Linked DNA regions of Homo sapiens: region 1 is linked to region 2. A link means that fine-mapping ties the variant in region 2 to the expression of a gene that starts in the linked region. Tissue or cell type: tibial nerve. Region 2 holds a variant in brackets; the other region holds the start of a gene. All regions are shown on one strand. Distances are from middle to middle.

Region 1 (8,101 bases), 46 kb after region 2:
TCTGCTTCCAGATAGAGCTGGGAGCCAGAAGCCCTGGATTCAGGCCCTGGCCCTGCTTCCTCCACCCCCAAACCATCACTGTGACCCTCATGGGTCCACTTCCCCCTCAGGCCTCAGTTTCCACTTTTGTAAAACAATGGCCCTGGCTCTGCTTCCTCCGCCCACAAACCATCACTGTGACCCTGATGGGTCTACTTCCCCCTCAGGCCTCAGTTTCCACTTTTGTAAAACGAAGGCATCAGACCAGTGATTTAAGCTCCAAACCTTCTGTCTGAATCCAGGCACCCTCCCACTCTACCCTGTCCAACCCCTGCCCAGCATGCTGGATCCACGGGCCCCTGAGTGTCTATGGTTTCAGAGTCAGAGGCCTTATCTCTACTCCTGTCTCCTGCTTTCATAGCTGTTGCCTTTGAGGATTCTGTCATCCCCATTTTACAGGTGGGGAGATGGAGGCATGAGGCATTGAAGCCAATTGCTCAAGGTCACAGAGGGTGATTTGAAATCCAGGGCTCCCTCCTCTGGGCCCAGGAGAGCCGCAGAACTTAAGGGCACCTTCTTTCAGGAGAATCGCCAAGATCTTAAGTGGCCAGCCGTTCTCTATACAGATGTGGACTCCACATGAGGCAAGGGGCTGCCCAAGGTCACAGAGCAAGGCACTGACAGACCAGGGTCCTGAACCAAGCCTCCCTGCCCCCAGGCTCCACCCAGACAGGGGGCTGGCAACATGACCTGACTTTCTGCCCTGGTCCTGGGATCTCCCCAAGACTGGAGCCCACGTCCTGCCTCTAGCCGCTGCCCCCAGAAGCCCCCGAGCATCTAGGGCTGAGATGGGAAGAGTGAGCAGGAAGACAGGAAAGAAAGTTGAGGGCTGGCCACTTGCCCCCGGCCCTCTGGCCCTCCCCTACTGCTCTCCTCGTGCAGGGGGAGCGGCGGCGGTGGTGATGTAATGCACTCGGCTTTCGTCCCGGTGCCAATCTCAGAAGAGAGACGACAGATTGCGTGAGCCAAATTTGGCATCCTAGGGGGAGAGGCATGAAAAGTGGAGATGTGGAGGAGCAGAGAGGAGCCTGGGGTGGTGCAGGAGGAGCCCCCTGCCCTACAGCCCCGAGGTGCCTCCCCTCCCTCCCCTCAGGGCCCCCATCTCTTCCCCAGCTAGCCTGGCCCTGGGGCCTCCCCTCCTCACTCTGAGGGGCCAGCCTGGCTTCTCCCCGGACCCCTTGAGCCCGGCACTGCCAGGCCTACCCGCCACCCCCACCCCACACTGCTCCAGCTCTGTTTCCCACCGCCGCTAGTTTCCTGGTTACCATGTTGCCGGTTGTCATGTCGCTTACATGTCCTCGTGACTCAGTGGTCCCCGCAGAGGGGCCCCCTCCTCCTCACACCCCCCTTAGCACTCGCCCCCGCCTCCCCCAGATCCACATTAAGAACCAGCCCGCCCTGTAAGCCTACACTGTTCCTCCTCCCCTTCCTTCTTATCCTAAGCTAAGACATCTTCTCACAGCATCTCCCAGAGCTACTTCATTCTCTCTTTCGCAAATGTCTACGAACCTACTATGCTCCAGGCTGGCGCACGCGGCTTTCACAGACCTGACACAGTCTGGAAACTGCTCAACACCCTGATGAAGTCAGTATCATCATACCTATTCTCCAGTTGAAGAAACTGAGGTTCAGAGAGGTCAAGCCACCCACCCAAGGTCACCCAGCAGAAACTCAACCAGCTCTGCCTGGTCACAGCCACTCCAGAGGATTTTCTGAGAGAAGAGCTTTCTTTTCAAGGATAACCCAAAGGGCCATGAGGAATTGTACCCCAGATTCCCCCTCTAATCCTGGACACTCCTCCTTCGTCAGCTATTTCCGCCATATTCCCACTGCCCCACGCCCACCTCCACCCACTAGCTGTTCATCTCTCTTAAGGTAAAGTGAGTCTTTACTCCCATCTCCCCAGTGCTTTCCCCAGCCTGTGAACAGCCCACTGCTCATTGAGCCCAGGGCCCGCCTTGGAGGTCACTGGGGCAGGGAGTGACGTCCCCATGCCACAGATGTGGAAGATGACGGTTGGGAGGAGAGTGACCAGCCCAGGGGGCTGCTCTCCCAGCCACCTGAGCTAATTTCTGGGAGGCTGAATGGAGGACATATGAGACCCACTGCCCAGTGTGGAACACCCCAGAAAGAGTCCCTCCTCCCAGTGAGAATGGAGTGGAATGTTCTAGGCTCAGCCCTTCCAACTCCAGTTGGGATATGGGTCAGTTCAGTGGCCAACAGTCTCTGTTCCCACCATGCTGCACCCATCTCTTACCCCAGCTGCCCTGGTCCACCTTTTGCTCCCCTCAGCACAGGCCAAGCCAGGGCCACAGTGAGGCTCTTGGGCCCCTAAAGTCCTGCTAACTGCCCCCAAAAGGCCTGAAGCCATGGAGGTCATGGGACTGGATGTGGGGGAGAACACACACACACACGGCTCCAACCCTTCTCTGGGCCTCCCTCCCTGAGTTCCCCACTTCCCCCAAACCTGCTGCTGAACATTCTACTGCTCTTGAGGCCCTGCTCTGTCAGCTGGCCAGGCTGCCCTGCCTCTAGCCCGCCGCTCCACCCCACCCAGCTTGCCACCTCCCAACTCCCTGCATCCTGTCCATCCTGAAGCAGGGACACTGGGGGCAGAAATGTGGGTAGGGGGCAGGGAGGCTGACACTGGTGGGGGGACATTTGGCAGGTTGCAGGGGAAGTTCTCCCTGCGGGAGGCTCATTGAGACCTCTCTTGCCTTGGGGTGCTCCCTACACACGGAGGAAAAAGCAGCCTCTGCCTCCCTCCCCAGCCTGTGTCTATCACTGTGAACGTGCAGTGCCTCCTCTACCAATCCCTGCCCCTGCGCCCTGGGGTCGTGTGGCGCCAAGTAGGTGCTCAAAACATGAGAAGTGAGATTTCGTTCTTCAGATCACAGGGCCATTTGCAACGAGGATGCAGCTGGGGAGGCGGAAAGGCGGCATCCCCCACCTTGCCACAAGTCACCTGCCTTGAAGCTCCCCGGCATGACAACTGGGGTGGGTGGAGGCAGGGAAAGGTCATGGCTGGGGCAGGAGGTCAAGACCCCTTCCACCCACCTCTCTCCCCCTTTCCAGGCCACAACCCAGACCGCGACGCTCCCAGACGGACAGACGGACAGAGCCCGCCCGTGGAGCCCGCCCGCTCCCGGGGAGTCACGGGACCGCGCGCGCGGCGCCGGGCAGCCGGGACCCGGCTCCGGATCAGGTGCGGAGCGGGCGGGGCCGGAGCGGCGGGCCCGGGACACACAGACACGCACGCGGCGGGACAAACTGACGGACAGCGCCCGGGGTGGGCGAGCGCGGCTTACCGCTGGGCGGAGGGTCCGACGAGAGTCCGGGAGGCGGCGAGCGGGCGCTACATCCCAAGGCGCGATCCGGCGGGCGGCGTCCCGGGCGCGGAAAGGGGAGTCCCGGCGCCCCCTGCCCGCGAACTCGGCCGGCCGGCCCGCGCTCCCCTCCCCGGCTGCCGCTCGGTCTGCGCGTGGGTCTTGGGGTCTCCGCGCGTCCCGGCCGTCCCGCGCCGCTCCCCGCGGGCCGCCCAACTTTCAGCGCTGCCCCGCGCCGCGCCCTCGGCGCCGCCTCGGCGTCAGCATCGTCGGGCCCGGCCGGGCTCACAGCGCGGGGGTCCGGGGGCCCGGGGCGCCCCGCCGCCCGCGCCCCCCACCCCCGCTGCAGGCGCCCTCCCCGCCGCCGTCCCCCGCTGCGCCCAGCTCCCTCGCTGTCACCCGCTCCTGCTCGCGCGCTCTGCCCCCGGCCCTGCGCTCCACTCCCGGCCCCGCTGCGCTCGGCCCCGGCCCCGCGACCCCTCGGCCTCCCGGCCTGGGGTCGCCCTCCCCGCCCCCGCCGGCCGGGCTCTGTCGCCACCTCCCCGACCGCTCTCGCGTCTCTCTCCTGCCGCCGGGGTCTCCGCCGCGCTCGCGTCCCGGTCCCTCTCCCGGCCTCCCTGCCTCCTGCGGCCCCGCTCGCCCTCTGCCCGCGGGGTCTCCGTCTCCGTCGCGGTCGCCCGCCGGCCTCCCCCCGCCTCCCTCTGCCCGCGCTGCCTCTCTCCCCTGCGCGTCTCTGTCCGTCTCCCTCGCGGCCCCTGTCCTTCTCTGTCTCTCCCCCTCCCACTCTCCGTGCGGCCCCCTCTGTCTCGGACCCCGGCCCCCGCCTTGGCCGCGTCCCCGGCTCGCCCGGGAGCCCGAGCTCCCGCCGCCCGCGGCGCGCCGAGAACTCCCAACTCGCGGCACGCCGCCCCGCTTTGCGAGACTTTCGCCCCTCCTCACACGTGACCCGCGCCCCACTGCGGAGGCCGCGCGCCCCCCAGCCCGGGAGCCCCGGCTGCCCGCGGGACCCCGCCCTGCCCGCCCCTCGGCCTAACCCGGCCTCAAGCCCCCTCCCGCGGGGCCCGCGGCGCGGAGCAGGGGCTGGGGCGGGGGGCTGCTGGCCCCGCTCCTGCCCTGGATCCTGCCCGGGTTTTCCTCCTCGCCCCAGGAGCGCTCCTCCCAGAACCCGTTCCTGGATCCGCTCCCGGGTTTTGTGCCCCCCCCCCAAAAGGGGGCAGGTGGAGAGGGTTCCTCCGAGCCGGGAAGGGGGGTGGGTGGGAGCTGGTCCCTCTGGGGTCCCACGGAGTCCGCCCCTCTCCTTAGCGGTCCTCGTACTCTCCCAAAGTACCGCCGGTCAAGGACCCGAAGCACCTCACTCTGGGAGTCTGAGGGGGCCCTATTGGAGGGACCCTCGCGATCACTCAGTCACCACTGCCCCATTTTACAGATGGCGAGACTGGGTACCAGAGAGGGTCAGAAACTCGGCCAAGGTCACCCAGAGATGACAAAGCCAGGCCAAACCCTAGTCTCTTATTCTCTGTCGCTCTCCATTACCCCAAGCTGTCAGGCCTGGGCCCCACACTCTGGGGTGTCAGGGAACCCCCAGCACCCACAGCACCTGTCTAGCCAGCTACATCCTGACCATCCTGCCACGTCACTCTAGCCCTCCGAGGAGACAGGAGGGAAAGTGCTCCTCCTTCCAGGGTGGTAGGACGAGAGAACACCTGCAGTTAGACAGCCAGCAAAACTTCCCTGGGAGTCTGGCCATCACCGACTAGCCCCATTACAGAGAGGGAGAGACCGAGGCACCCCAAAGCCAGGTGGAGAACTGATGAAATCTGAAATCCCCTCTGGCTCTCCTGAGCCTCGAGGATGTCAGCATAAGAACAGCAACACACAAACCACCACAAGTGTTTCCCTTCCTCGTGGGCTCTCCCTACTCAAAAGGATTCAGTCCCAACTCCTCAGTGTGGTATAGTCAGGCCCCACCTTATCCGGCATCCCACATCCCATAAATCCACAGGTACACCCTGATTCCACAGATTCCAGAACACGCCACAGGCCTCCACACCTCTCTGCCTGCACGCACTGTTCCTCCTCACTAAGATATCCTTCCACCTTTTTTGCCCAGAGAATTCCTGCTGTTCCCCAAGCCCAGCCTCAGTGCCACTTCCTTGAGAAGGCCTCCTGATGACCCCAGCAGAAGTCATTTATCACCCACTCATTCATTCAACCAGCACTAGGCACCCACCACATACCAGCCCCTGGGCGGGGCACAAGTATGGTTCTTGCTTAGTGGGATGAGGAGTCAGGCTAACCTAGGCTCAAAAGCACCTAGGAGCTACTTGACCTTGAACAAGTTTTTATTTAATCTGTCTGTAAATTGAGGACCCTAACGTCCTCCATTCCCAAGGGGTAGATTAAGTGAGGTGGATGCACAAGAAATACACAGATCATGGTAGGCGCTCAATAAATGTGGCCATCCTTTCTCACGGCTCTCTCCGACTGTGCAGACCTCCAGAACGCACGTCCTGTTCCACGCCTCTCCCTGGTTACCCTGCTGTGTCCTCACAGGCAGACAGCCAGGACTGATGTTCCATCACATGAATGCTCAGTGCGTGGATGCAGGGGAGACTCAAGCAGCCTGAGTGCCCTGTGGGCAAGAGATGTGTGCCTGGTCTTTTTCACCTTTTCTGTGGATGGAAAGTGGGAGGATGAGGGTGAGACAAATGACCTGCCTGGCCACGGGCCTGACCTGGTAGCCATCCTGGGAGTGTGGGGTGCAGGGAGAGGAGGAAGGGGCAGGAAGGAGGGGAAAATGCAGACAGAGATGTCTGTAGATCCAAAGCATCTACTGTCACAGAATCAGTCTCCTGATGCCAAGTCCCTGGGCACAAACTTGAAGATGGGATGGGGGCTCTGGGGCAAGGAGGGTTAGCTTGCCGGGCCTGGGCCGCACCCTGGGGCTGCTGTTCATCCTGCAAGGAGACTGGACTGGGAGGAGGTAGGGAGAGGCAAGCAGAGGAGCTCCAGGCAGGGAGAGGTTCGGAGGCCCCAGGAAAGAGCCCTTTCTCTCCTCTCCAGCCCTGTGTGACCCTGGGCAGCTCAACTCTCCTCTCTGGGCCTTTGTTTCCTCATATGTAAAATGAGAACTATAATACCCACTTTGAGCTTCGGGGTGTGTGTGTGTGTGTGTGTGTGTGTGTGTGTGTGTGTGTGTGTGTTTGTTGTTGTTGCTGTTTTTAGATAGGATCTGGCTCTGTTGCCCAGGCTGGAGTGCAGTGGCGCAATCTCAGCTCACTGCAACCTCCGCCTCCTGGGCTTAAGCCATCCTCCTACCTCAGCCTCCCGAGTAGCTGGGACCACAGGCATGTGCCACCATGCCAGGCTAATTTTTGTATTTTTTGTAGAGATGGGGTTTTGTCATGTTGTCCAGGCTAGTCTCAAACTCTTGAGTTCAAGCGATCCACCTTCCTTGGCCTCCCAAAGTGCTAGGATTACAGGTGTGAACCACCGCACGTGGTCGAGCAGCTGTTTTGAGGATAATCAAAGACTAAAGGAAGACTTCACATTGTTCACCTTCCGTGTGAGTAGCCTCTAGCCCTGTGTGAGGTTGGGGGCAGAGATGGAAATGGGCATGCAGAGGCCTGGGGGCAGTGTGAGGGAGTTGAGAAAAGTCTTGGGTGTCAGAACCTGTGTGACCCTGGGCAAGATGCGTGTCCTCTCTGGACCTCAGAGGCCTCGTCTGTAGTGGGACAGTGTGGACTAGGTCTCCCAAGGGTAAGTGGGCTTTGTCATGATCCACCACAGATGCGCCCCCCCACCAGACGGAATGAGGACAACCTGCTTCCCCTGCACTCGTACCCCTAGCTCAGCACTATCCAGACCTTCGCAGGGATTGTCTCCTTTGATTCTTGCAAGAATTCTCCAGGCACCTGTTACCAATGGGGAAACTGAGGCACGGGCAGTAATGCCATGAGTGGCAGGGCCGGTGTGGCCAGGAACAATGGTCTGGAGGAAGGAGGTTCGCTCTGAAGTTTGGAGGAGAATGCTTGTAAAACCTCTGTCCACCATACACTTTGGTAAAACGTCCTGGCCATCTCCATTCTCCATTCTCTCCTTTGATCCTCACAAGATCTCCGTGGGGTACGGGCTATGCCTGTCTTTACCTCACAGGTGAGGACTCTGAACTGACACACAGAGAGGGGAAGTGGCTTGTCTGGGGTCAGGCAGTAAGCAACTGTCTGGGCCAGGATTTGAACCAGGCTCAACTTCCACTTTCTGGGGAAAGGTCATTCCAGGCTAGCAGAGCACTCACTAACCGATTTACTGTGGGGTCCTGCTCACACCTCCTGGGTCCTACAGGGGCCCTGAGAGCCTGTGTAGAGGGCTGAGAGGAGTGGAAGGGAGGGCAACTTGGGCCAGGCAGGTGGACAGCTGGGGAGGAGACGGAAAAGGCCACTTCAAAATGCTAGAGTCACAGAGGCCAGAGGTTTTTGTCCTAGAGAGTGTCTTAAAGTTCAGCCAGGGCCGGGCGCGGTGGCTCACGCCTGTAATCCCAGCACTTTGTGAGGCCGAGGCGGGCAGATCACTTGAGGTCAGGTGTTTGAGGCCAGCCTGGCTAACATGGTGAAACCTCGACTCTACTAAAAATACAAAAATTAGCCAGGCACTGTGGTGCGCATCTGTAATCCAAGCTACTCGGGAGGCGAAGGCAGGAGAATCACTTGAACCCGGGAGGCAGAGGTTGCAGTGAG
Region 2 (8,101 bases):
ACAACACTAAAACCATCCAGGAATATTTGGGTAAAATATAAGTCTCCTCCTTGAATGCACCTGTCCCCCAATAACACTTTTTTTTTTTTTTTTTTGAGACAGAGTCTTGTTCTGTGGCCCAGGCTGGAGTGCAATGGCACGATCTCGGTTCTCTGCAAACTCCGCCTCCTGGGTTCAAGCGATTCTCCTCTCTCAGCCTCCTGAGTAGCTGAGATTACAGGCACCCGCCACCACCCCTGGCTAATTTTTGTATTTTTAGTAGAGATGGGGTTTCACCATGTTGGTCAGGCTGGTCTCAAACTCCTGATCTCGTGATCCGTCCACCTTGGCCTTCCTAAGTGCTGGGATGACAGGCGTGAGCCACCGCGTCCGGCCTCCCAATAACACTTTCTAGGAAGAGCCACAGTGAACAGTCTGGGGTCTCCTTCCAGAACTATTGACCTACAGACATGATATATTCAAATATATAGACATAATTTTTATTGTAAGATATACATGCAAAAGACATACAATTTTAAAAAAATAGAGATACCATGTACTCATCACCCATAAAAACTGCTAACACCTGAATTATACCCCTGTATGTCTCTATGCCTGCACCTCCTCTTTTCTCTCTATTTATTTCTGAGACAGAATTTCATTCTTGTTGCCCAGACTGGAGTGCAATGGCGTGATCTCAGCTCACTGCAACCTCCGCCTCCCGGGTTCAAGCAATTCTCCTGCCTCAGCCTCCCAAGTAGCTGGGAATACAGGTGCCCGCCACCACGCCTGGCTAATTTTTTGTATTTTTAGTAGAGATAGGGTTTCACCATGTTGGTCAGGCTGGTCTCCAACTCCTGATCTCAGGTGATCCACCCGCCTCAGCCTCTCAAAGTGCTGGGATTATAGGTGTGAGCCACCATGCCCAGCTGTATTTCTCTTTTTTCTTACTATTAGCCACATATATGTTCCTTAAGTAATAAGTGTAAGATGAGAATTGCTCAATTATTGTGTGTGCAACATGTTCAACTTTATTAGGCAAGGCTAAACTATTTTTGCAGGAGATTGAACCAGTTCATACTCCCGCCCAAAGCAGATGAGAGTCCTCACTGATTCATTTCCTTGCCAAATCTGAAACCGTTCAATTTCATAATATCTGCCAAGCCAGTGAGAGTAAAATCCCAACCCACTGCGGCTTTAATTTACATTTCCCTTATTACTAATGATATTGAATATCTGTCTTGTTTATATCTTCTTTTTTTTTTTTTCTTTGATGGAGTTTCGCTCTTGTTGCCCAGGCTGGAGTGCAATGGCATGATCTCAGCTCACCACAACCTCCGCCTCCCGGGTTCAAACTATTCTCCTACCTCAGCCTCCCAGGTAGCTGGGATTATAGGCATGCACTACCATGCCGGTTAATTTTGTATTTTTAGTAGAGACAGGGTTTCTCCATGTTGGCCAGGCTGGTCTTGAACTCCCCACCTCAGGTGATCCGCATGCCTCAGCCTCCCAAAGTGTTAGGATTACAGGCGTGAGTCACCACACCTGGCCCCTGTTTATATTTTCTATATCCTTAGTGATTCTTTCATCTTTTTGATGTGTCAGTCACTGAATGTTTGTCATAAAATCTCTAATTATATTGGCACCAGCATTATCGAAAGAAAGGAAAAAAAACTCTGTTTAGAATAATGGATTTGTTAGCTTCTCCTTGATTTGCTTTATATAGTTTGAGGTTGTGTTATCAGGTGTATAAGAGTTCAGAATTGTTTTTATCTTCCTGGAGTTATATACTCCTTCTTTGTTTCTAATAATACTTTTGCCTTGAAGCCTAGTTTGTCTGTTATTAATACAATGAAAAATCTTTTGGTTTTAATCTTTTTTTTTTTTTGAGATGGAGTTTCGCTCTTGTTGCCTGGGCTGGAGTGCAGTGGCGCGATCTCAGCTCACCGCAACCTCTGCCTCCCGGGTTCAAGCGATTCTCCTGCCTCAGCCTCCCAAGTAGCTGAGATTACAGGCATGCGCCACCACACCCAGCTAATTTTGTATTTTTTTAGTAGAGACGGGGCTTCTCTGTGTTGGTCAGGCTGGTCTCAAACTCCTGACCTCAGGTGATCTGCCTGCCTCAGCCTCCCAAAGTGCTGGGATTACAGGCGTGAGCCACTGCGCCCGGCCCTCACCTCGGCCTTTCAAAGGGCTGGGATTACAAACGTGAGCCACCGTGCCTGGCCTCAATGTCTCTTAAATCTCATTCAATCTATAGGTTCCTACTCTATCTCTTCTATTTTCCTTGCAATTTGTTAGTTGGGGAAACCAGGTCATTTGTCCTTCATATAAAATATTTTGTTTAATGAAATTATATAGATAATGATCTTTAGAAATACATCTTGGATATAACAAGTGTTGGAGAGGACGTGAAGAAAAGGGAATCCTTGCATATGGTTGGTGGGAATGTAAATTAGTATAGCCATTATGGAAAACAGTATGGAGGTTCCTCAAAAACAAAATAAAAATAGAACTACCATATGATCCAGCAATCCCACTACTGGGTGTGTATCCAAAGGAAATGAAATCAGTATGTCAAAAAGACATCTGCACCCCATGCTCATTGCAGTTTTATTCACAATAGCCAAGCTGTGGAAACAACTGAAAATGTCCATCGGTGGATGAATGGATCAAGGAAATGTGGTATATATACACCATGGAATACTATTCAGCCTAAAAAAAGAGACAGTCCTGTCACTGTCAGCACCGTGAACGAACCTAGAGGACATTATGTTAAGCGCAATAACACAGGCACAGAAAGACAAGTACGCGTGATTTCACTTAAACTATGGAATCTAAACAAGTTGAACTCAGCCGGGCACAGTGGCTCTCACCTGTAATCCCAGCACTTTGGGAGGCCGAGGCAGGCAGATCACCTGAGGTCAGGAGTTTGAGACCAGCCTGACCAACATGGAGAAACCCTGTCTCTACCAAAAATACAAAAAATTAGCTGGGTGTGGTGGTGCACGCCTGTAATCCCAGCTACTCAGGAGGCTGAGGCGGGAGAATCACTTGAACCCGGGAGGCAGAGGTTGCAGTGAGCCGAGATGGCGCCATTGCACTCCAGCCTGGGTAACAAGAGCGAAACTCCGTCTCAAAAAAAAAAGTTGGACTCACAGAAGCAGAGAGGAGAACGGTGGTTGTGCTGAGGCTGGCAGAGGGAGTGGGGGTGTTGGGAGATGTTGGTCAAAGGATACAAAATTTCAGTTAGATGGGAGGAATAAGTACAAGAGATCCATTGTACATGGTGACCACAGTTAATAACAATGTATTGTATTCTTGAAAATTGCTGAGAGTACATTTTAAGTGTTCTCACCATAAAACAATAAGTATGTGGTGACACCTACATTACTTAGCTTGATTTAGCCATTCCACAGTGCATACATAATTCAAAACAACATGTTGTGTACAATAACTACAATTTTTATGTTAATTTTTAAAATAAAAAATTTTAATGATTTTAAAAATAAGTATATAAAATATATTTTATTTTATTATTATACTATATGTTAATTTCCTTGTGTATATATAGCTCTCAAACTCTGGAGCTCAAGCAGTCCTCCTCCTCAACCTAAAGTACTGGGATTACAGGCCTGAGCCACTGCACCTGGCCTACAGTTATTATTATTATTATTATTATTTCTTTTTTCAGTATTTATTGATCATTCTTGGGTGTTTCTCGCAGAGGGGGATTTGGCAGGGTCATAGGACAATAGTGGAGGGAAGGTCAGCAGATAAACATGTGAACAAGGGTCTCTGGTTTTCCTAGACAGAGGACCCTTTGGCCTTCCGCAGTGTTTGTGTCCCTGGGTACTTGAGATTAGGGAGTGGTGATGACTCTTAACGAGCATGCTGCCTTCAAGCATCTGTTTAACAAAGCACATCGTGCACCGCCCTTAATCCATTTAACCCTGAGTGGACACAGCACATGTTTCAGAGAGCACGGGGTTGGGGGTAAGGTTATAGATCAACAGCATCCCAAGGCAGAAGAATTTTTCTTAGTACAGAACAAAATGGAGTCTCCCATGTCTACTTCTTTCTACACAGACACAGTAACAATCTGATCTCTCTTTCTTTTCCCCACATTTCCCCCTTTTCTATTCGACAAAACCGCCATCGTCATCATGGCCCGTTCTCAATGAGCTGTTGGGTACACCTCCCAGACGCGGTGGCGGCCGGGCAGAGGGGCTCCTCACTTCCCAGACGGGGCGGCCGGGCAGAGGCGCCCCTCACCTCCCAAACGGGGCAGTGGCCGGGCGGAGGCGCCCCCCACCTCCCTCCCGGACGGGGCGGCTGGCCGGACGGGGGCTGACCCCCCACCTCCCTCCCGGACGGGGCGGCTGCCGGGCAGAGACGCTCCTCACCTCCCAGATGGGGTGGCAGTCGGGCAGAGACACTCCTCAGTTCCCAGACGGGGTCGCGGCCGGGCAGAGGCGCTCCTCACATCCCAGACGGGGCAGCGGGGCAGAGGAGCTCCTCACATCCCACACAATGGGCGGCCAGGCAGAGACGCTCCTCACTTCCCAGACGGGGTGGCGGCCGGGCAGAGGCTGCAATCTCGGCACTTTGGGAGGCCAAGGCAGGCGGCTGGGAGGTGGAGGTTGTAGCGAGCC[G/A]AGATCACGCCACTGCACTCCAGCCTGGGCAACATTGAGCACTGAGTGAGCGAGACTCCGTCTGCAATCCCGGCACCTCGGGAGGCCGAGGCAGGCAGATCACTCGCGGTCAGGAGCTGGAGACCAGCCCGGCCAACGCGGTGAAACCCCGTCTCCACCAAAAAATGCAAAAACCAGTCAGGTGTGGCAGCGCGTGCCTGCAATCCCAGGCACTCTGCAGGCTGAGGCAGGAGAATCAGGCAGGGAGGTTGCAGTGAGCCGAGATGGCGGCAGTACAGTCCAGCCTCGGCTTTCACAACTTTGGTGGCATCAGAGGGAGACCGGGGAGAAGGGGAGGGGGAGGGAGAGGGACCAGTTATTATTTTTTAAAATGTCTTCTCGGCCAAGCACGGTGGCTCAAGTCTGTAATCCCAGCACTTTGGGAGGCCGAGACAGGTGGATTGCTTGAGCCTTGGGAGTTTGAGACCAGCCTGGGCAACATAGCAAGACTCTGTCTCTACAAAAAAATACAAAAATTAACTGTGTGTGGTGGTGTGTGCCTGCAGTCCCAGCTACTCTGGAGGCTGAGGTGGGAGGATCATCTGAGCCCAGGGAGGTTGAGGCTGCAGTGAGCCGTGATTGGACAACTGCACTCTGGTCTGGGTGACAGAGTGAGACCCAGTCTCAAAAAAAAAAAAAAAAGTCTTCTCTCCCCTACTTACCTACTATGAGTATAGATGAGGCAATTTACTTGACAAATATTTAATGAGCACCCCACTATGTGCTGGGCCCCATGCCAGATCCTGAGAAATATAACGGTGAACAGGCCCGACATATTCCTGGAGCTTCAATCTGAGATTTGGTAGTTTGCAGAATCCTGAAGAGAGCTTATTAAAATGCAGGTCCCAGGACCCATCTCACACAGGATGTCAGGGGTGTGAGGTGGGGACCAGGAGTGGGCACCTTTTGCCAATTGAGTCTAGCCCTGTCCTACAATATGTAAGCCACAAAATGATCCACATCACATCAATTTAAATTTTCCAGCAATTACATTAAAAAGTAAAAAGAAGGCCGGGCATGGTGGCTCGGCTCACGCCTGTAATCCCAGCACTTTGGGAGGCTGAGGCAGGCAGATCACCTGAGGTCGGGAGTTCGAGACCAGCCTGACCAACATGGAGAAACCCTGTCTCTACTAAAAATACAAAAATTAGCTGGACGTGGTGGTGCATGCCTGTAATCCCAGCTACTCGGGAGGCTGAAGCAGGAGAATCACTTGAACCCGGGAGGCAGAAGTTGCAGTGAGCGCTATTGCACTCCAGCCTGGGCAATAAGAGAGAAACTCCGTCTCAAAAAAAAAAAAAAAAAAAAAGTAAAAAGAAGGCTAGACACGGAGGCTCATGCCTGTAATCCCAGCACTTCGGGAGGTCAAGGCAGGAGGATCGCTTGAGGCCAGGAGTTGGAGACTAGCCTGGCCAACATGGTGAAACTCGTCTCTACTAAAAATACAAAAAATTAGCCAGGCGTGGTGGTGGGTGCCTGTAATCCCAGCTACTCAGGAGGCTGAGGGAGGAGAATGGCTTGAACCTGGGAGGCCGAGGTTGCAGTGAGCAGAGATCGCGCCACTGCACTCCAGCCTGGGCTACAGAGAGACTTCATCTAAAACAAAAAACAAAAAACAAAAAACGATAATTTAAAGATAGTTTGCAATCTTTCTTTCTTTCTCTTTTTTTTTTTTTTTTTTTGAGGCAGTCTCGCTCTGTTGCCAGGCTGGAGTGCAATGGCGCGATCTTGGGTCACTGCAACCTCCGCCTCCCGGGTTCAAGCGATTCTCCTGCCTCAGGCTCCCAAGTAGCTGAGATTACAGGCGCCCGCCACTGCGCCCGGCTAATTTTTGTATTTTAGTAGAGACGGGGTTTCACTATGTTGGTCAGGCTGGTCTCGAACTCCTGACCTCAGGTGATCCGCCCACCTCAGCCTCCCAAAGTGCTGAGATTACAGGCGTGAGCCACCACGCCCGGCCTGCAATCTTTCTTACTACAAAGTCTTTGAAATCCGGTGTGTATCTTACATTCACAGCACACCTCAGTTACACCAGCCACATTTCAAGTGCGCAGTGTGACTCGGGGCTACTGTGTTGGACAGCGCAGCCCGGAGGCTGATCCGGGTAGCCCGGGGGCCACGCTGGGAGCAGCGCAGGGCTGGATCGTGTCTGTGAAACTCACTTTGCAGACTCCGGTGCTCCAAACAAAATGAGGGAACAAAGTCATACCCGGACTCCAATTCTGCCTCCCACTCCTGGCTGTCTGCCCCAAGGTCCTTCCGCCCCGTCCTGGCCACGTGACCTTGGGAGTCCCTTCGCCTCCAGAGCCTTGACCTGTACACCTGAGAAATGGGCGTGGTGACTCCTGCTGGCAGCAGCAGTGGTGCGCGTGGGGACACGCGTGCGGGGAGTCAGGCGCCCCCGGGTGCTCGCGGCAGGAAGGAGTGAAGCCTGCGGGCGGGTGTGGGGGCAAGAACTGAAGCCGGGGGAACCAGACGGGCTCCGGGTGCGGGGGCTCCGCTGGGGCCACGCCAGTCCGCCTGCAGCAGCCGGCAGCTCCGGAGGCGGCCACCGGGCGGCGCTGTGGAGCAGGGACCCCGGGGCCCGCAGGGGCCCGCGGAGGAGTGAGAATAATTAGTAACAGCCCCTGTCTGGGGTGCACTTCCCGGGGGAGGGGAGAATGAGGTCACTCTGGTCCTTCTGTGACAGGAGGGAAAACAGGCGAAGAAGCCCATCCCCCCAACCAACCCCCCCTAATTCAAGTCGGCCAACACTGCGGCCATGGGAGGATCCGGGTTTGGAGTCGGGGGCTCTGGGTGAGGTCCTGATTCTGACCTCTGAGGGACCTCGGGCTGCTCGGCCTGGTCTCCCACCTGTAGACGGGGACACCTGTGCCTCCCTGCAGATGCCGGCTGCAAAGGGGCGTTGCCAACTGTCTGGTGCCGAGCCAGAGTCAGTGCGTGCCTGGGATTGAGAGGCGAACTTTGAGAGATGAGGATAAAAATAACAGCTGCCGATGCTGAGCTAAATGCCTACTCTTCTTTATACTCTCTTAACAGCCGGTGAGGTTGGTATGACTGTTGCCCCCATCTGACAGATGGGGTAGCTGGGCCTCCAAGGTCTGGTGTGGCCTTACCTGGCCCAGCAGAGCGGGACCCTGATTCCAGGGTTCTGTGCTGCCTTGTGACCAGACCTTGGCTTAGACGGGTTCGGATGAACCTTCTCCTGCACACACCCCCACCCATGGCTTTTTCCTCCCTCCCCTCCTGGGCTCTCAGACCCTCTGGCCTTCCCTCCCCTCCCCAAAGGCTGCCAGGGCCCACAGCCAGGACCCCCAGTCTCCCCATTAAGATCAGAAGCCTCTCCATGCCCACAGCTCAGGCCTAGCCAGTGAGAGTGGTCCTCTGGCCGTAATAGTGGTTTCAAGACAGGCATGGGACTCAAGCCT

Alleles and levels. Alleles are on the strand shown, and positions count from the first base shown. SD is a standard deviation of normalised expression in the study named.
As copies of G replace A in region 2, the expression in tibial nerve of the gene that starts at base 3,567 in region 1 goes down (moderate effect, 0.65 SD a copy in GTEx).

Evidence for each region. PIP is the estimated chance that this variant, and not a neighbour inherited with it, causes the effect.
Region 1: KCNJ4 starts here. The variant in region 2 is fine-mapped to the expression of KCNJ4 in tibial nerve (GTEx, PIP 0.97).

The regions. Positions count from the first base shown.
Region 1 is chr22:38,451,633-38,459,733 of GRCh38, forward strand. KCNJ4 (potassium inwardly rectifying channel subfamily J member 4) reads right to left here and starts at 3,567. Exons shown (of 2, transcript NM_152868.3): 1 at 3,348-3,567. It overlaps LOC124905116 (a long non-coding RNA gene), which reads right to left. Exons shown (of 2, transcript XR_007068096.1): 2 at 5,690-6,037. RefSeq lists enhancers at 225-844, 845-1,463.
Region 2 is chr22:38,405,741-38,413,841 of GRCh38, forward strand. LOC105373030 (a long non-coding RNA gene) reads right to left here. Exons shown (of 5, transcript XR_938254.4): 5 at 4,616-4,658. Among named protein-coding and RNA genes, the nearest start is that of TPTEP2-CSNK1E, 11 kb to the left of the region's middle. RefSeq lists a silencer at 7,117-7,316. The variant G/A (reference allele first, on the strand shown) is at 4,635.